2 separate regions of the Homo sapiens genome follow, and region 1 is linked to region 2. Evidence: fine-mapped expression QTL. Tissue or cell type: fibroblasts. Region 2 holds a variant in brackets; the other region holds the start of a gene. All regions are shown on one strand. Distances are between the middles of the regions.

Region 1 (8,101 bases), 49 kb after region 2:
CCAGGCTGGTCTCCAACTCCTGACCTCAGGTGATCCATCAGGCCCAGCCTTCAGGCTCTACTTTTTTTTTTCTAGACAGAGTCTCGCTCTGTCGCCCAGGCTGGAGTGCAGTAGTGTGATCTCGGCTCACCACAACCTCTGCCCCTCCAGGTTTAAGCAATTCTCTGCCTCAGCTTCCAGAGTAGCTAGGATTACAGGCGTGCGCCACCACGCCCTGCTAATTTTTTGTATTTTTAGTAGAGACGGGGTTTCACCATCTGGCCAGGCTGGTTGTGAACTCCTGACCTCGTAATCCACCCGCCTAGGCCTCCCAAAGTGCTGAGATTACAGGCGTGAGCCACCAGGCCCGGCCAGGCTCTACTTCTAATTCTAGTTCTCTTGCTATTTCCACCACATCTACAGTTACTTTTTCCATTGAAGTCTAGAACCCCTCAAAGTCACCCATGAGGGTCAGAATCAACTTTTTCCAAGTTCTTGTTGTGTTAATTGATTTTTTTTTTTAAGACGGAATCTCACTGTTGCCCAGGCTGTAGTGCAGAGGCACAATCTCGGCTCACTGCAGCCTCCACCTCCTGGGCCCAAGCGATTAACCTACCTCAGCTCCTCAAGTAGCTGGGACTACAGGAGCGTGCCACCATGCCTGGCTAATTTTTGTATTTTGTTGGTAGAGACGGGGTTTCACCATGTTGGGCAGGCTGGTCTCAAACTCCTGACCTCAGGTGATCTGCCTGCCCCAGCCTCCCAAAGTGCTGGGATTACAGGCGTGAGCCACCGTGAACTGCTGATGTTGATATTTTGACCTCCTCCCATGAATCACAAATATTCTTTTTTTTTTTCTTTTTTGAGATGGAGTCTCGCTCTGTTGCCCAGGCTGGAGTGCAGTGGTGCTATCTTGGCTCACTGCAAGCTCCTCTTCCCGGGTTCACACCATTCTCCTGCCTCAGCCTCCCGAGTAGCTGGGACTACAGGTGCCCGCTGCCAAGACCGGCTAATTTTTTGTATTTTTAGTAGAGATGGGGTTTCACCATGTTAGCCAGGATGGTCTCGATCTCCTGACCTTGTGATCCGCCCACTTCGCCTCCCAAAGTGCTGGGATTACACGGGTGAGCCACCGTGCCTGGAGACAAATATTCTTAATGGTATCTAGAATAGTATATCCTTTCAGGAGGTTTTTAATTTACATTGTTGATACCCATCAGAAGAATCACAATCTATGTAGCTGTAGCCTTACAAAATGCATTTCTTTCTTTCCCCCTGCCGCCCTTTTTTTTTTTTTTTTTTAAGAGACTGGCAGTGGAGGGGGTGGTCTCACTATGCTGCCCCGGCTGGTCTCTAACTCCTGAGCTCAAGCGATCCACCAGCTTTGGCCTCCCGAAGTGCTGCGAGTACAGGCATGAGCCACTGTGCTCAGCCTCAAGATGCATTTCTTAAGTAAGATTTGAGAGTTGAAATTACTCCTTGATCCATGGGCTGCAGAACAGATGTTAACATTAATCTTACTCATCTCCATGAGACCTCTTTGGTGACTAAGCACATTCTCAATGAGCAGTAATATTTTGAAAGAAATCTTTTTTTCTGAGCTGTAGATCTCAATAGTGGGCTTAAAATATTCAGTAAAACATACTGTAAACAGATATGCTACTATACAGGCTTTCCTGTTTCAATGATCAGCACACAGTAGATTTTTGCATACTTCTTAAGGGCCCTAGGATTTTCAGAATGGTAAATGAGCACTAGTTACAACTTAAGTCACTGGCCACACTAGCCCCTAACAAGAGAATCAGACTGTCCTTTGAAGCCAGGCATTGACCTTTCTCTAGCTATGAAAGTCCTAGATAGTATTTTTTTTTCCATATAAGGCTGTTTCATTTACATTGAAAGTCTGTTGTTTAGTGTGGCCACCTTCATCAATTATTTTAGCTATATGTTCTGCATAACTTGCTGCAGCTTCTTCATCAACACTTACTGCCTCACCTTACACTTTTACATTACAGAGGTGGCTTCTTCCCTTAAACCTCATGAACTAACCTCTGCCAGTTTCAAACTTTTCTTCTGCAGCTTCCTCACTCTTCACAGAATTGAAGAGAGTTAGTACCTTGCTCCGGATTAGGCTTTCGCTTAAGGGAATGTCATGGATGGTTTGATCTTCTATCCAGACCACTAAAACTTTCTCCCTATCAGCAATAAGGCTGTTTGGCTTATCATTCATGTATTCATTGGAGTAGCATTTTAATTTCAAGAACTCTTCCTCTGCATTCACAACTTGGCTAACTGTCATTCAGCACAAGAGGCCTAGCTTTTGGCCTATCTCAACTTTTGATACGCCTTTCTCACTAAGGATAAACATTTCTTAACTTCACTTAAAGTAAGAGAGATTCAACTGACTGCTCCTTTTGCCTGGACACTGTAGGGTCACTGACTGGCCTAATTTCAATATTGTGTCTCAAGGAATTGAGAGGCCTGAGGAGAGAGACTGGGAACTGCCAGTCAGTGGAGCTGTTAGTACACACCCAACTTTTACCAATTAAGTTCACTGTCTTATATGAGTGCTATTCATGGTAACCCAAAACATTGATCACAGGTCACTATAACAGATGTAACAATGAAAAGGTTTGGGGCTGGGCATGGTGGCTCATGCCTGTAATCCCAGCACTTTGGGAGGCCGAGGCAGGCGGATCACTTGAGGTCAGGCGTTCGAGACCAGCCTGGCCAATATGGTGAAACCCCGTCTCCACTAAAAATACAAAAATTAACTGGGTGTGGTAGTACATGCCTGTAATCCCAGCTACTCCGGAGGCTGAGGCAGGAGAATCACTTGAGCCCAGATGGCAGAGGTTACAGTGAGACCGAGAACACGCCAGTGCACTGCATCCTGGGTGACAGAGTGAGATTCCACCTCAAAAAAAAAAAAAAAAAAAAAGTGTGAAATATTGTGAATTACCCAAACGTGACACAAGAGACACAAAGTGAGCACATGCTGTTGGAAAAATGGCTGGCATTTACAGACTTGCTCGATGAATCCTTGCTATAAACCTTCACCTTGCAAAAAAAAAAAGGCAGTATTTGCAAAACACAATAAAATGAGTTATCTCTTATTCCCTCCATCCTCACCCAGCTACAGGAGGACCACGACTGTTTACTGCTGTATTCCAAGCAGAAAGGTTGGCATACAGGAGACCTCAAAAATACGCTACTTTGATCTTGAGGAGAGTGAAAAATCTTACTCATTTTATGTACAAAGCACAGATGTGCATACATTATATAAAAAGAAATAGTTTACGTATGGCATTAAGATTTCATGAAGATTAGAAAAACAATGTTTACAAAAGGTCCTTACAAAGGTAGTAATTCAAGAAAAGATCAATAAACGATGTGTTAAAGTAAGATTTTTGGAAGCTCAAATTCAGGCAATACAAAAGCCAGCAATATATCTTGCTACTCGAATGCCTCTATTTCACCTCAAACTCACAGATAAAACTGAACCCAATATGTCCTTGTCCATTAAAAAGCAAATCACCAAGAAAGTAACAAAAGATTCCCTTCAATGTCTCTTTTATTGACAGTGGTCCCAAAACTCCTGGTCAATGAATTCAAAACCCAAATCTTGCAGGTAGGACTTAACCTCATCTGCTGCCAAATAGCTGGCTATGTGACCTTGGGCAGACCACTTCACTTTTCTGGACCTCAGTCTCCCCAGTCAGTTGGACAGTCTAAGCCAGGCTCCAGAGCTGAGACCCTACGTCTGGCTCAAGAACTTGGTGCAGAAACAGAACGAAGATTATTAAGTTTGTGAACGTCTATGGGAACTGACAAGTGAAAGACAAAAGCTGAAATCCCTACCAAAACGGCTTGCCCAAGCTCTATCCTTTTCCCTCTTCCCTCGATGGATCAAAGGCGGAAAAGCGGTGTTTACTAGCAACTCTGTTTCGGGTCGTGAGAATCTTCATACACCTGTCTATAGGCGCGCCAGAGCGGTGAAGGGCCCGAGCGGTGCAGGGCTGGGCCGCAAGCCTCACAGTCGCACGTTCCACCAACCACCAGCCGGGGCCCGGAAGCGCGCCCGGAAATCGAGGCCCTACTAAGTTTTAGACTGCGACCTCGGCGCCCCCACGGTCAGGCCCGCACCCGTACTCAGATCCTCCCGACCTACAAAAGGCCCCGCCACGCGGCCCACGCACCCCGGCAAACTCGCAGGCCCCACGATGGCGGGGCGGCGGCGCGAACACACAAAGGAGGCGTCGTCAGCGGGGAACAAAAACCCTGCCCGGGTCTTCCCCCTAACAGCACATCCTGCCCGACTTTCCAAGTGACCTTGGGGGCGTTCCTGCCCCTCCCAGAGTCTCAGTTTCCCTTCCTAGGCTAGGAACTAAGCCCCATGGCCGCGGCCCCCCAGGGTGAGCCGAGACCCAGACGCAGACCTCCTAACTTCTGTTGCCCGCGCCAAGCCGGGCTCGGTGCGCCCGCGCGGACGGCAGTGCGAGCGACCAGAGCTGGCTCGAGGTCCCGGGCTGCAAAGCCTCGGCTGGGTCAAGCCGCGCAGCGCGGCTCCCCCAAGAGGCGCGGGCCGAGGCCTCTGTAGGCCGCGAAGCTGCCTAAACCTCGCATCTGCAAGGCCCTGACTTACCGCTGCTTTCCCGCAAAGCTCGGCCTAACCTGGAGCTAGTTAGGTCCGCAGGCGCCACCGCCGGCGCACTCCGGAGAAGAAGCTCCTTCTTCAGCCGCCCAGGAGAGCTCCTCGAGAAAGATGCCGCCGCCTCAACAGCAACCCACTTCCGCTTCGGAGGCCTCGGCTCCGCCCCCCATCATGTCCCCATTGGCCGCCCGCCTACTCTACTTCCGCGGTCGGCCGGGTAAGGACAAATTTTTTAATCCTATTGGATAAGAAAACCATCTGTTACCACTTTAAAACGCGCCTCTTTCCGCCCCCGCCCACAATCGAGCGCACTAACTCGCACCTTCCGGCAAGAGACGGCGCGGGCGCGCCCCGCCCGCAAGGTTTTTCGGGAGTCACGGTCTGAGGGCGACCCGGGCGACCCGGTCGCCCGTGCCCGGCTGCCACTGACCGCTCCAACGCCGCCAGGGACGACCCGCCAGCTGCCTCCGGAGCCGAGCAGGCCCCGAACCTTCCCATTCCTAGATTTCCAGCCGCACAACAGCCGCGGTGCCCCTGGCTCGACGCAGCTGGCCGGAGGCGCGGAGCTGGTCGTTCGTCCCGCCCGCCGTTCCGCGCCCCTCTCCCGGCTCTTGTTTCCTCGCCTCTTAACGAGGCCTTTGTGAGGAAGGTTGCTGGGCCTTGGGACTCTGACGATCGGCTGGAAACCAGGCCTGGCCCTGTTTCAGCATCCCCGCGTGCCAAGCCCTGGGCCGGCGTGCGGGTCCCTGCCCCTGCGAGGAAGCTGGGACTTTTGCAGGCCTGGGTGGAGACGTGTACATAACAGAGGAAGAGTGTGGAGGATTGGAGGACTCAGGGCAGCACGGCAGAGGTGCATGCAGGTCCCCGGTCGGACTGGAGAATGGGCGGTGGGTTTCTTGAGCTCCAGTCCCTGAGCTCGACTTTGACGTGGGTTTAGCAACCAGGAAAAAAGCCCACCTTGTCCCTGCTGCCTGAGAATACCCAGACCTTAGTCCATGGCCAGCATCTCTGGTCCCTCGGCACCCTCAGGCAACGTGAAGGTCACCCCAAATGCCTTGGGTTACATTGTTTCCTTACAGTGAGTTTGTTTGTTTTAGTGGCGCGATCTCGGCTCACTGCAAGCTCTAACCTCCTGGGTTCACGTGATTCTCCTGCCTCAGCCTCCCGAATAGCTGGGATTACAGGCGCCTGCCACCACGCCCGGCTAATTTTCTTTGTATTTTTAGTAGAGATGGAGTTCCATCATGTTGGCCAGGCTGGTCTCGAGCTCCTGACCTCAGGTGATCCACCCTCCTTGGCCTCCAAAAGTGCTGGGATTACTGGTGTGAGCCACCTCGCCCGGCCACCTTACAGTGAGTTTCTAACCTCGAAAATGGAGTCAAATAACGGAATGACAAGGCAGATAGAAACCAGAGCATTAACGTTTTTGTGTTGCATTTACAAACAATATGTGTTTGCTATTTTTCGTAATTGTAAGGAAATCTGGCATGGTAGAGTATCTGATAGATAAATGTAATTCTCATGTAAAATATCTAAGTATTTGTGTTTTTTGTTTGTTTGTTTGTTTGTTTTGAGACGGAGTCTCGCTCTGTCGCCCAGGCTGGAGTGCAGTGGCGCGATCTCGGCTCACTGCAAGCTCCGCATCCCGGGTTCACGCCATTCTCCTGCCTCAGCCTCCCAAGTAGCTGGGACTACAGGCGCCCGCCACCACGCCTGGCTAATTTTTTTTTTTTTGTATTTTTTAGTAGAGACGGGGTTTCACCGTGTTAGCCAGGATGGTCTTGATCTCCTGACCTCGTGATCCACCCGCCTCGGCCTCCCAAAGTGCTGGGATTACAGGCGTGGGCCACCGCACCCAGTCTTTTTTTTTTTTTTTTTTTTTGAGACGAGGTGTCACTCTGTCAGCCAGGCTGGAGTGCAGTGGCACAATCATGACTCACTCACTGCAGCCTCGACCTCCCCAGGTTTAGATGATCAACCCACCTTGGCCTCCTGAGTAGCTGGGACCACAGGTGTGTGCCACCATGCCTGGCTAATTTTTTTGTATTTTTTTTTTGTAGACACTGGCTTTCGCCATGTTGCCCAGTCTTGTCTTGAAGCCCCGGGCTCAAGTTATCTGCTCACCTCGACCTCCCAAAGTGTTGAGATTACAGGCATGAGCCATCACACCCTGCCCTAAGTATTTGATTTTTGATAGCGACTGTAAGTTGAAAGGTATAACATTTTCCGAAGTTTGTGATTATAATTGGAGCAAAGAGAACTTAAAAGTTTAAAAGAAATGAAGACATTTAATATATCTATGAGAATTATTTAAATATTAATACTTGATAAGGCAGACAACTGAAATGCTAAAAAATAAAATTAGATTCTACGTGTATAAATGCAGTTGAAAATGTTTAAGAGAATTTCAGTTCATAAATGGGGCCGTACATGATTAATCAAAATGGTGGTTAAAAATGATCAGATTTAGGGCGGGCATGGTGGCTCTCACCTGTAATCTTAACACTTTCGGAGGCTGAGGTGGGAGGATTGCTTGAGCTGAGGAGTTTATAGATGAGCCTGGGTAACGTGGTAAAACCCCCTCTCCACACACACACACACAAATAATAATTAGCCGGGTGTGGTGGCATGTCCCTGTGGTCCCAGCTACTCAGGAGGCTGAGGCAGCAGGATTACTTGAGCCCAGGAGGTCATGGCTGCAGTAAGCTGTGATTGCACGTCAGCTTGATTGACAGAATGAGACCCTCTCTCTCTCAAAAAAAAAAAATCAGATTTAGAAAAAGTAATATTAGTAATTTGTATTTTACAGCCTAAGGAAAAGTTAGGGTTTTCTGTTTGTAACTGTAATATATTGAAGATGTGATGTTGAAAAAGTCTCTATAAATACCAGTTTCATGCTCAAAGACTGCCTTCAGCCAGGGCAACATAGTGAGACCTCATCTCTACTAAAAATAAAAAATTAGCTGGGTATGGTGGTAAGTGCATGCAGTCCCAGCTAGTAGGGAGGATGAGGCAAGAGGATCACTTGAGCCCGGGAGTTTAAGGCTGTATGAGCTATCATCACGTCACTGCACTCCAGCCTGGGTGACAAAGCGAGACCCTGCCTCAAAAACAAAAACAAAAGCTGCTTTCAAGTCTTCTCCAAGCCTCACTTGCACTGAACTTGTTCCTTCACAAATAGCGCTTCCCTTGGGCCCTGAACGCCTGCAGCTTAGAGAAAAGACCGGCACCTTGGTGCTCCCATAGTCCCACAAGTCGAAACCAGCTGAATGCAGGTTCCTGGGCCTCACACCAGCTACTAAATCTGTTTCTTCACTATTTCCAAAGAAAGCCCCTGCCCAAGTGGGTCTCAGATGCTATCAACAAGGATCTTCTGACTAGCCTGTACTCAGGCAAAATGTCCACTCCCCAGGCAGTCCAGCCAGGAAAGGTTCAGAGAGGGATTGTCAGCACTAGCTGGGCCATATC
Region 2 (8,101 bases):
GCTATTAGCCCCAAAACTTTTTTTTTTTTTTTTTTTTTGAGACGGAGTCTCGCTCTGTCGCCCAGGCCGGACTGCGGACTGCAGTGGCGCAATCTCGGCTCACTGCAAGCTCCGCTTCCCGGGTTCACGCCATTCTCCTGCCTCAGCCTCCCAAGTAGCTGGGACTACAGGCGCCCGCCACCGCGCCCGGCTAATTTTTTGTATTTTTAGTAGAGACGGGGTTTCACCTTGTTAGCCAGGATGGTCTCGATCTCCTGACCTCATGATCCACCCGCCTCGGCCTCCCAAAGTGCTGGGATTACAGGCGTGAGCCACCGCGCCCGGCCTAGCCCCAAAACTTAAATGACCCAAATAGTGGATAAATTGAAGCATATCCATCTAATAAAATAATATACAGTGAGAAAAATGAACTACAAACATTAATGAATCTTAAAATATAATACAGCAGTACACCGCTTTCTATGTTTTTGCTTTGAGAACACAGTTACTCATAGCACACACTACAATGAAATATTTTCAGACCATATTCAGGAGGATTGCTGGAGGCCAGGAGCTCAATACCAGCCTGGGCAACATAGTGAGACCCTGTCTCTACAAAACACACACAAAACACTGGAAAAGAAAGTACTGCGCTGGGCACAGTGACTCACGCCTGTAATCCTAGCACTTTGGGAGGCCGAGGCAGGTGGATCACGAGGTCAGGGGTTCGAGACCAGCCTGACCAACATGGTGAACCCTATCTCTACTATAAATACAAAAATTAGCCGGGCACGGTGGTGCACGCCTGTAATCCCAGCTACTCAGGAGGCTGAGACAGGAGAATTGCTGGAACCCAGGAGGCGGAGTTTGCAGTGAGCAGAGATCATGCCACTGCACTCCAGCCTGGGTGACAGAGCAAGACTCCATCTCAAAAAAAAAAAAAAAGTACTACATATACAATATTTTATTAGTTGCTAACCTCTTACTGTGCCTAATTTGTAAATTAAACTTTATCATGTGTAAGTACATACGTATAAGAAAAAACCAATATATATACAATTTGGTACTGAGGTTTCAGGCATCCACTGGGGGTCTTGAAATGTACAGTAGTGACCAGGCATGGTGGCTCACGCCTGTAAGCCCAGCACTTTGGGAGGCCAAGGACAGCAGATCATCTGAGGTCAGGAGTTCAAGAGTAGCCTGGCCAACATGGTGAAACCCCGTTTCTACTGAAAATACAAAAATTAGCCGGGCATGGTGGCGGGTGCTTGTAATCCCAGCTACTCCATCTCAAAAAAAACAAACAAACAAAACAAAAACAAACAAACAAACATATAGAAGGACAAAGTATCATGAATAGGGTGAAGTTATCAGAGAAATGCAAGTATAGTGTCTGCTAGAAAATCAAATACAGTCATGTGCTGCTGTAGACCTTAGTCAGCAGACCACATACACAATGGTGGTCCCGTTGAGTATAATGGAGCTGAAAAATGCCTATTGCCTAGTGACAGCTTAGCTGTCATGTTGTAGTACATTGTTACATGCGGTGCCACCAGTTGTATAAAGTTATAGCACATATAATTTATGTGCAGTACATACTTAATAAGTGACTATGTTACTGGCTTAGTCATTATATTTTAAGATTGTACTCTATTATTATTATTATTATTATTATTATTTTTTTTTTTTTTTTTTTTGAGATGGGGTTTTGCTCTTGTCGCCCAGGCTGGAGTGCAGTGGTGTGATCTTGGCTCATTGCAACCCCTGCCTCCCGGGTTCAAGCTATTCTCCTATTCTCCTGCCTCAGCCTCCCGAGTAGCTGGGATTACAGGTGTGCACCACCACACCTGGCTAATTTTTGTATTTTCAGTAGAGATGGGTTTTCACCATGTTGGCCAGGCAGGTCTCAAACTCCTGACTTCAGGTGATCCACGTGCCTCGGCCTCCGAAAGTGCTGGGATTACAGGCGTGAGCCACTGCACCCGGCCCTTCTATTATTAAAAAAAAAAAAAAAAAGAAAAAAAAAAAAGGTTAGGCTTGGCACAGTGGCTCACACCTGTGTTTCAGCACTTTGGGGAGGCCAAGACAGGAGGATTGCTTTGAGACCAGCGTGGGCAACACAGTGAGACCTTGCCTCTGTAAAATATAAACAAAATTAGCTAGGCCTGGTGCCTATAGTCCCAGCTACTTGAGAGGCTGGGGTGGGAGGATCACTTGAGCCCGGGAGGTCAAAGCTGCAATGACAATGAACCATGATTGTGCCACCACACTCCAACACAGGTGACAAAGCAAGATGCTGTTCCAAAAAAAAAAAAAAAAAAAAAAAAAAGAAGTCAATTGCAAAACAGTCTCACAGGTTCTTCAGGAGGTATTCCAGAGGCACCGTCACCGCAGATGAGAGCTCCACGTGTTATCGGCCCTACAGACCTTCTGGTGGGACAAGAGGAAGAGGTGGAAAACAGTGATGATGATGACCCCGACCCTGTGTAGACTTAGGCTAATGTACACGGTTTTTGTTTTTAATTGTTATTTTTTAAAAATAATAGAGACATGGCTGGGCGCAGTGGCTCACGCCTGTAATCCCAGCACTTTGGGAGGCCGAGACAGGCGGCTCACGAGGTCGGAAGATCGAGACCATCCTGGCTAACATGGTGAAACCCCGTCTCTACTAAAAATACAAAAAATTAGCCAGGTGTGGTGGCGGGCGCCTGTAGTCCCAGCTATTTGGGAGGCTGAGGCAGGAGAATGGCGTGAACCTGGGAGGTGGAGCTTGCAGTAAGCCAAGATCGCCCACTGCACTCCAGCCTGGGCAACAGAGCGAGACTCCATCTCAAAAAAAAAAAAATAATAATAATAATAATAATAGAGACAGGGTCTCACTATGTGGCTCAGGCTGGTCTTGAACTCCTGAGCTCAAGCCATCCTCCCACATCTGCCTCTCAAAGTGTTGGGACTACAGGTGTGAGCCCCTGCACTCAGCCTCCATTTTTTCTCTTTTTTTGTTTAGATGGAGTCTCTGTTGCCCAGGCTGGAGTGCAATGGCATGATTTCGGCTCACTGCAACCTCTGCCTCCTAGATTCAAGCGATTCTCCTGCCTCAACCTCCTGAGTAGCTGGGATTACAGGCATGTGCCGCCACGCCTGGCTAATTTTGTATTTTTAGTAGAGATGGGGTTTCTCCATGTTGGTCAGGCTGGTCTCGAACTCCTGACCTCAGGTGATCTGCCTGCCTTGGCCTCCCAAAGTGCTGGGAATACAGGCATGAGCCACCACGCCCTGCCTTTTCTGTACCTTTTCTATGTTTAGATACACAAATACTTACCATCGTGTTACAACTGCCTTCAGTATTCAGTACAGTAACATGTACAGGTTTGTAGCCCAGAGCAGTAGGCTATATCACATAGCCTAGATGTGTAGTAGGCTCTGCAATCTAGGTTTAATTACACATTACACTGTACAATGTTCATACAACAGCAGAATTGCCTAACAATACATTTCTTTTTGTCTTTTTTTTTTTTTTTTTGAGATGGAGTCTCACTCTATCACTCAGGCTGGAGTGCAGTGGCGCAATATTGCCTCACTGCAACCTCTGCTGCCCAGGTTCAACAGATTCTCCTGCCTCAGCCTCCCAAGTAGCTGGGATTACAGGCGCCTGCCACCGTACCCAGCTACTTTTGTATTTTTAGTAGAGACGGGTTTCACCATCTTGGCCAGGCTGGTCTTGAACTCCTGACCTCGTGATCCACCCACCTCGGCCTCCCCAAGTGCTGGGATTACAGGCGTGAGCCACAGAGCCCAGCTTAACAACACATTTCTCAGAACATATCCCTGTAAGGTGGGGCGCAGTGGCTCACGCTTGTAATCCCAGCACTTTGGCAGGCTGAGGTGGGTGGATCACTTGCAGTCAGGAGTTCGAGACCAGCCTGGCCAACATGGTGAAACTCTGTCTCTACTAGAAACAGAAAAAATTAGCTGGGCATGGTGGTGCACACCTGTAATCCTAGCTATACTCTGGAGGCTGAGGCAGGAGAATCGCTTGTATGTGGGAGGTGAAGGCTGCAGTGAGCTGAGATCATGCCACTGCATTCCAGCCTGGGTGACAGAGTGAAAATCTGTCTCTGGAAAAAAAAAAAAAAAAAAAAAAAAAAAAAAAAAAAAAGAACATATCCCTGTAGTTAAACAACATATAACTATGTTACCCAATACATTAACTGATTAGAGAGGCAAACAAATCTTGTCTCAATAGAAGCAGAAAAAGGACTGGTAAGATTGAACATTCACTTGTGACCAAAAACAAAAATAGAGAAACCCTGTCTCTACTAAAAATACAAAAACTAGCCAGGCGTGCTGGTGCATGCCTAGCTACTCAGGAGGCTGAGGCAGGAGAATCGCTTGAACCCCGAGGTGGAGGTTGCAGTAAGCCGAGATTGTGCCACTGCACTCCAGCCTTGGCAACAGAGCAAGAATCTGTCTCGTTAAAAAAAAACAAAAACAAAAAACAGAAATTGAAGACAAATGCCACTAGGTGTCATGGCTCATGCCTGTAATCCCAGCACTTTTGAGGAGGCCGAGGCAGGCGGATCACCTGAGGTCAGGAGTTTGAGGGCAGCCTGGCCAACATGGTAAAATCCCGTTTCTACTAAAAATACAAAAATTAGCCGGGCATGGTGGTGCATGCCTGTAATCCCAGCTACTCGGGAGGCTGAGGCTGGAGAATTGCTTGAACCCAGGAGGCGGAGACTGCAGTGAGCAGAGATTGCACCACTGCACTCCAGCCTGGGCGATGAGTGAAACTCCGTCTCAAAAAAAAAAAAAAAAAGATAAATGCTTATCTCATGGTAGGAAAATGAACCTCCCTCATCTGACAGTTATCTAACTAGAACCTACAGCAAACATCTTTCTTGATGAAACACTAAAACACAAACACCATTTGTGTGTAATAATAATGTACTGGGCTAGGCTGGGCGCGGTGGCGCACACTTTTAATTCCAGCACCTTTGGGAGGCTGAGGTAGGA[G/A]TATCGCCTGAGGCGAGGAGTTAAAGACCAGGATGGGCAACGTGATGAGACCCCCGTCTCTACAAAAATAGAAAAAAAGAAAAAAGAAAAAAAAAATAGAGTTGGGGCTGGGAGTGGTGACTCACGCCTGTAATCCCAACACTTTGGGAGGCCGAGGCGGGCGGATCACTTGAGATCAGGAGTTTGAGACCAGCCTGGCCAACATGGTGAAAGCCCGTATCTACGAAAACTACAAAAATTAGCTGGACATGGTGGCACGTCCCTGTAATCCCAGCTGGTTGGGTGGCTGAGGCAGGAGAATCGCTTGAACCTGGGAGGCGGAGGTTGCAGTGAGCTGAGATCGAGCCACTGCACTCCAGCCTGGGCGACAGAGCCAGACTCCGTCTTAGGAAAAAAAAAAAAATAGCAAGGATTCTGGATACACAATATAGAGAATCAATTGTTTCTATGCTGCCAAAACAAAACAAAACCACCCCCCCACCGAAAAAGTTAATACAGACATCTTTTGAGTTTCTATAGCCAGCCTTGGGGGCTCCCTCCTTTCCAGGACCAGACCCACTCCAGCAGTACCAGTCTTAGGGATACACTGCTCCCTGCCTCCCCTAGGCTTGCTCCTGGGGTAAAGAACTGCCAGGCCCTGGGTAGCCACCAGAAGTGTCTGGTCCAATGCCTTTAGGTATCGGGGAGCCTGCAGACCCTACTGTATGCCAGCAAGAAGCTCTTTCTCATAACTTTCACAGGCCTGGCCTGGGGTCTCTGGAATTCTTTCCTCTTTCCCTAGAGAGCTTTCTGGACCTTGAAGATGGCAACTTAGCAGCCCTTATTCAGAGAGAGCTTTCTGGACAGCTTCAACTTCTTCCTGCTGGATCTCCTGGTTTCCCGTACCCCACCCTCATCAGTTTCAATTTTCCAGTGGCCTGGGGGACTGTCTCCTCTGTAAACATGTTCCATGATGTCTGTCTCACTGCCCACAGAGCCAAAAGTGCAGTGCCAGGAGCATGGTAAGCAAACTGCACTGGATGGTAGGCCTTTGGGACCCAGGCAGCCAGCATGTTAGCCTTTCTAGTCCCTGGGGACAGCTGGATAGGTACAGAGGGCAGAGGCAAAGGGAGAGCTTGGCCACACTGCCAAGCCCATTCCCTCCTTGTGGCTTTGCTGGCACTGCTCGCCTGTGGCAGTGGCTGGCATATCCATGCACTCCCAGTGCTGACTCCCACTCAGAGGGCAAATTTTGTATCTAGGTGGTCAGGGGCAAAGGGGGGTGCTGCAGTGCAAGGTTTCCAGGGCAATCTCAGTCCATCCCACTCAGAGCAGCACCCCCAGCACCTCTGAGAGACTGGCCGAGCTGAGCAGACAGCTCCTTGGTCAACCTTGCCTCTCAGAGTAGACTCTGCTCTCTTAGGGACTCCAGGGCTTGGGCTTGTGGCTGTGCTCCAAGAACAGCCTCTCACATGCTTGCTGGATTTAGGACATGGAAACTTCCTGAACACACACCAATGCAAAATACACTCAACGTGAGGCAGATAAGAACCCCGCACCTTGGCAAAAAGGGGGGAAATTGATTCCAAAGAGCAAATGAATGTGTAAAAGATATTTGGTTCAAATTAATGGTTTTATTTCCATCTGTAACACTAGCAGAGGAGTCCAAAGCAGACTGATATCCATGGATATAGTTTAAATGTAACAAAGAAAGAGTTGAACTATGTACATTGAAAAAAGGAAAGACATTTCTTCATACCAACCTTTCCCTAGTTCGCAGTTTCTGAATAGTAGAAACAAAACACATTTTTAAATCTTTCTATCAATTTAATTTAGGACGAAGTAACACAACTTTTATAATTAACCACTGAAGTTGTCTTTAAGGACAAAACTTAAATTTTAAAATGGGTGTTACCATATTTTATGAGTGGACTGACTCCAAGGTTGCCTTGCTCCAAGTCTGGGCATCGTGACATTGCCGTGATGCCCAGAAGAAAGTTAATGGCAATGATGTCCAGTCAGAGGGCAGACATGCTACACATCACAATGATGAGAGCTGCGGATTCTGCCCTCTTCAACTCCAAGTAGAAAATTATTATTTTCATTCAAACTAACTGGAAGTGAGCCAAACAGTTAAAAAGTCAGAATGAAGAATAAAACAATTTTCTTTTCACATAGAGGAGGGACACTCCTTCAGCCCCGTCTAAAGTGAATTCTGTGCTGAGTCCCTGCTCCTTCAGAAGGGTAAACTGAAGGTCAGTTATTGCTAACAAAGCCAGAAGTGGCCCCTTTCCCGCCCTGAAGATGTTTCACACGAAAAGGCCGTTTGTTTGGCGTGAGGCCCTCTGAGGAAGGACGACAGTGGAAGAGGAGGCATGCCGGCACTGTAAGGCCTCTCTCGTTAGCCACCCCCCAGGCCCTGTGCTGTCAGGGGCAGCTTGGGCCACTTTGCTGCCCCTGAGAGAACCTGAGGCTCCCGCGTACCTGTGGAGCGAAGGAGAGGTTGTCATCTGGGCCCCTGTTTCACCAGTCAAAACCTATGGAGCAGTCAGAAGCCCGAAGCATCCAAGCCCAGTGGCCAGGAAGCTTCTGAAATAAACGGCACTGGGTTGGGAAGGATGAGAAAGCCAAGACAGGTGGGCCAGGTTCTCCGAACATGGGGCAACAGTGACCTGGGCAAAAGCCTGGAACTGAGCGGCTGATAAGGCCACAATTACTGCCACCACCTCTCAGTATCTACACGGGGGCAGACGTTAGGCAGTGGGAACTGAGGACTGGAGGGCGTGTGGCAAACACGGGATGGATTTTATCAGAAAAGAGAGGACACCCAAACACGTGCCTGCCCTATTTATCTTGCATGTCCTGTGCCAGGTGAAGGACGCTGGAGCATGGGTAAGGTTCCTGAGAACAACTGGTGGGCAGAAACGGGCTGGGATGGGCACTGCTCCACAGGCAACATTAAGCCTCTGAGGGGGACACTAATAGTGCTACATCTTGTGGGCTGCTGAAAAGTAGGTAACGAATGGCCTTTATTGCACTTTTTCGTTCTTAGGAAACAGGGGAGTGCCCTGCAGAGTTTCTCTTGATTTGCAGAAATCACTGCAGATCAATGATAAGGTGCAGGCAG

What was found. PIP is the estimated chance that this variant, and not a neighbour inherited with it, causes the effect.
Region 1: it holds the start of RNF4, and the variant in region 2 is fine-mapped to the expression of RNF4 in fibroblasts (GTEx, PIP 0.91).

What each region holds. Positions count from the first base shown.
Region 1 is chr4:2,465,782-2,473,882 of GRCh38, reverse strand. It overlaps RNF4 (ring finger protein 4), which reads right to left and starts at 4,777. Exons shown (of 8, transcript NM_002938.5): 1 at 4,625-4,777. LOC107986250 (a long non-coding RNA gene) reads left to right here and starts at 4,932. Exons shown (of 2, transcript XR_001741551.3): 1 at 4,932-5,483. RefSeq lists enhancers at 4,135-4,254, 4,299-4,871, 4,555-4,914 and a silencer at 5,065-5,234.
Region 2 is chr4:2,514,345-2,522,445 of GRCh38, reverse strand. It overlaps RNF4 (ring finger protein 4), which reads right to left. Exons shown (of 8, transcript NM_002938.5): 8 at 6,589-8,101. Among named protein-coding and RNA genes, the nearest start is that of FAM193A, 18 kb to the left of the region's middle. The variant G/A (reference allele first, on the strand shown) is at 4,996.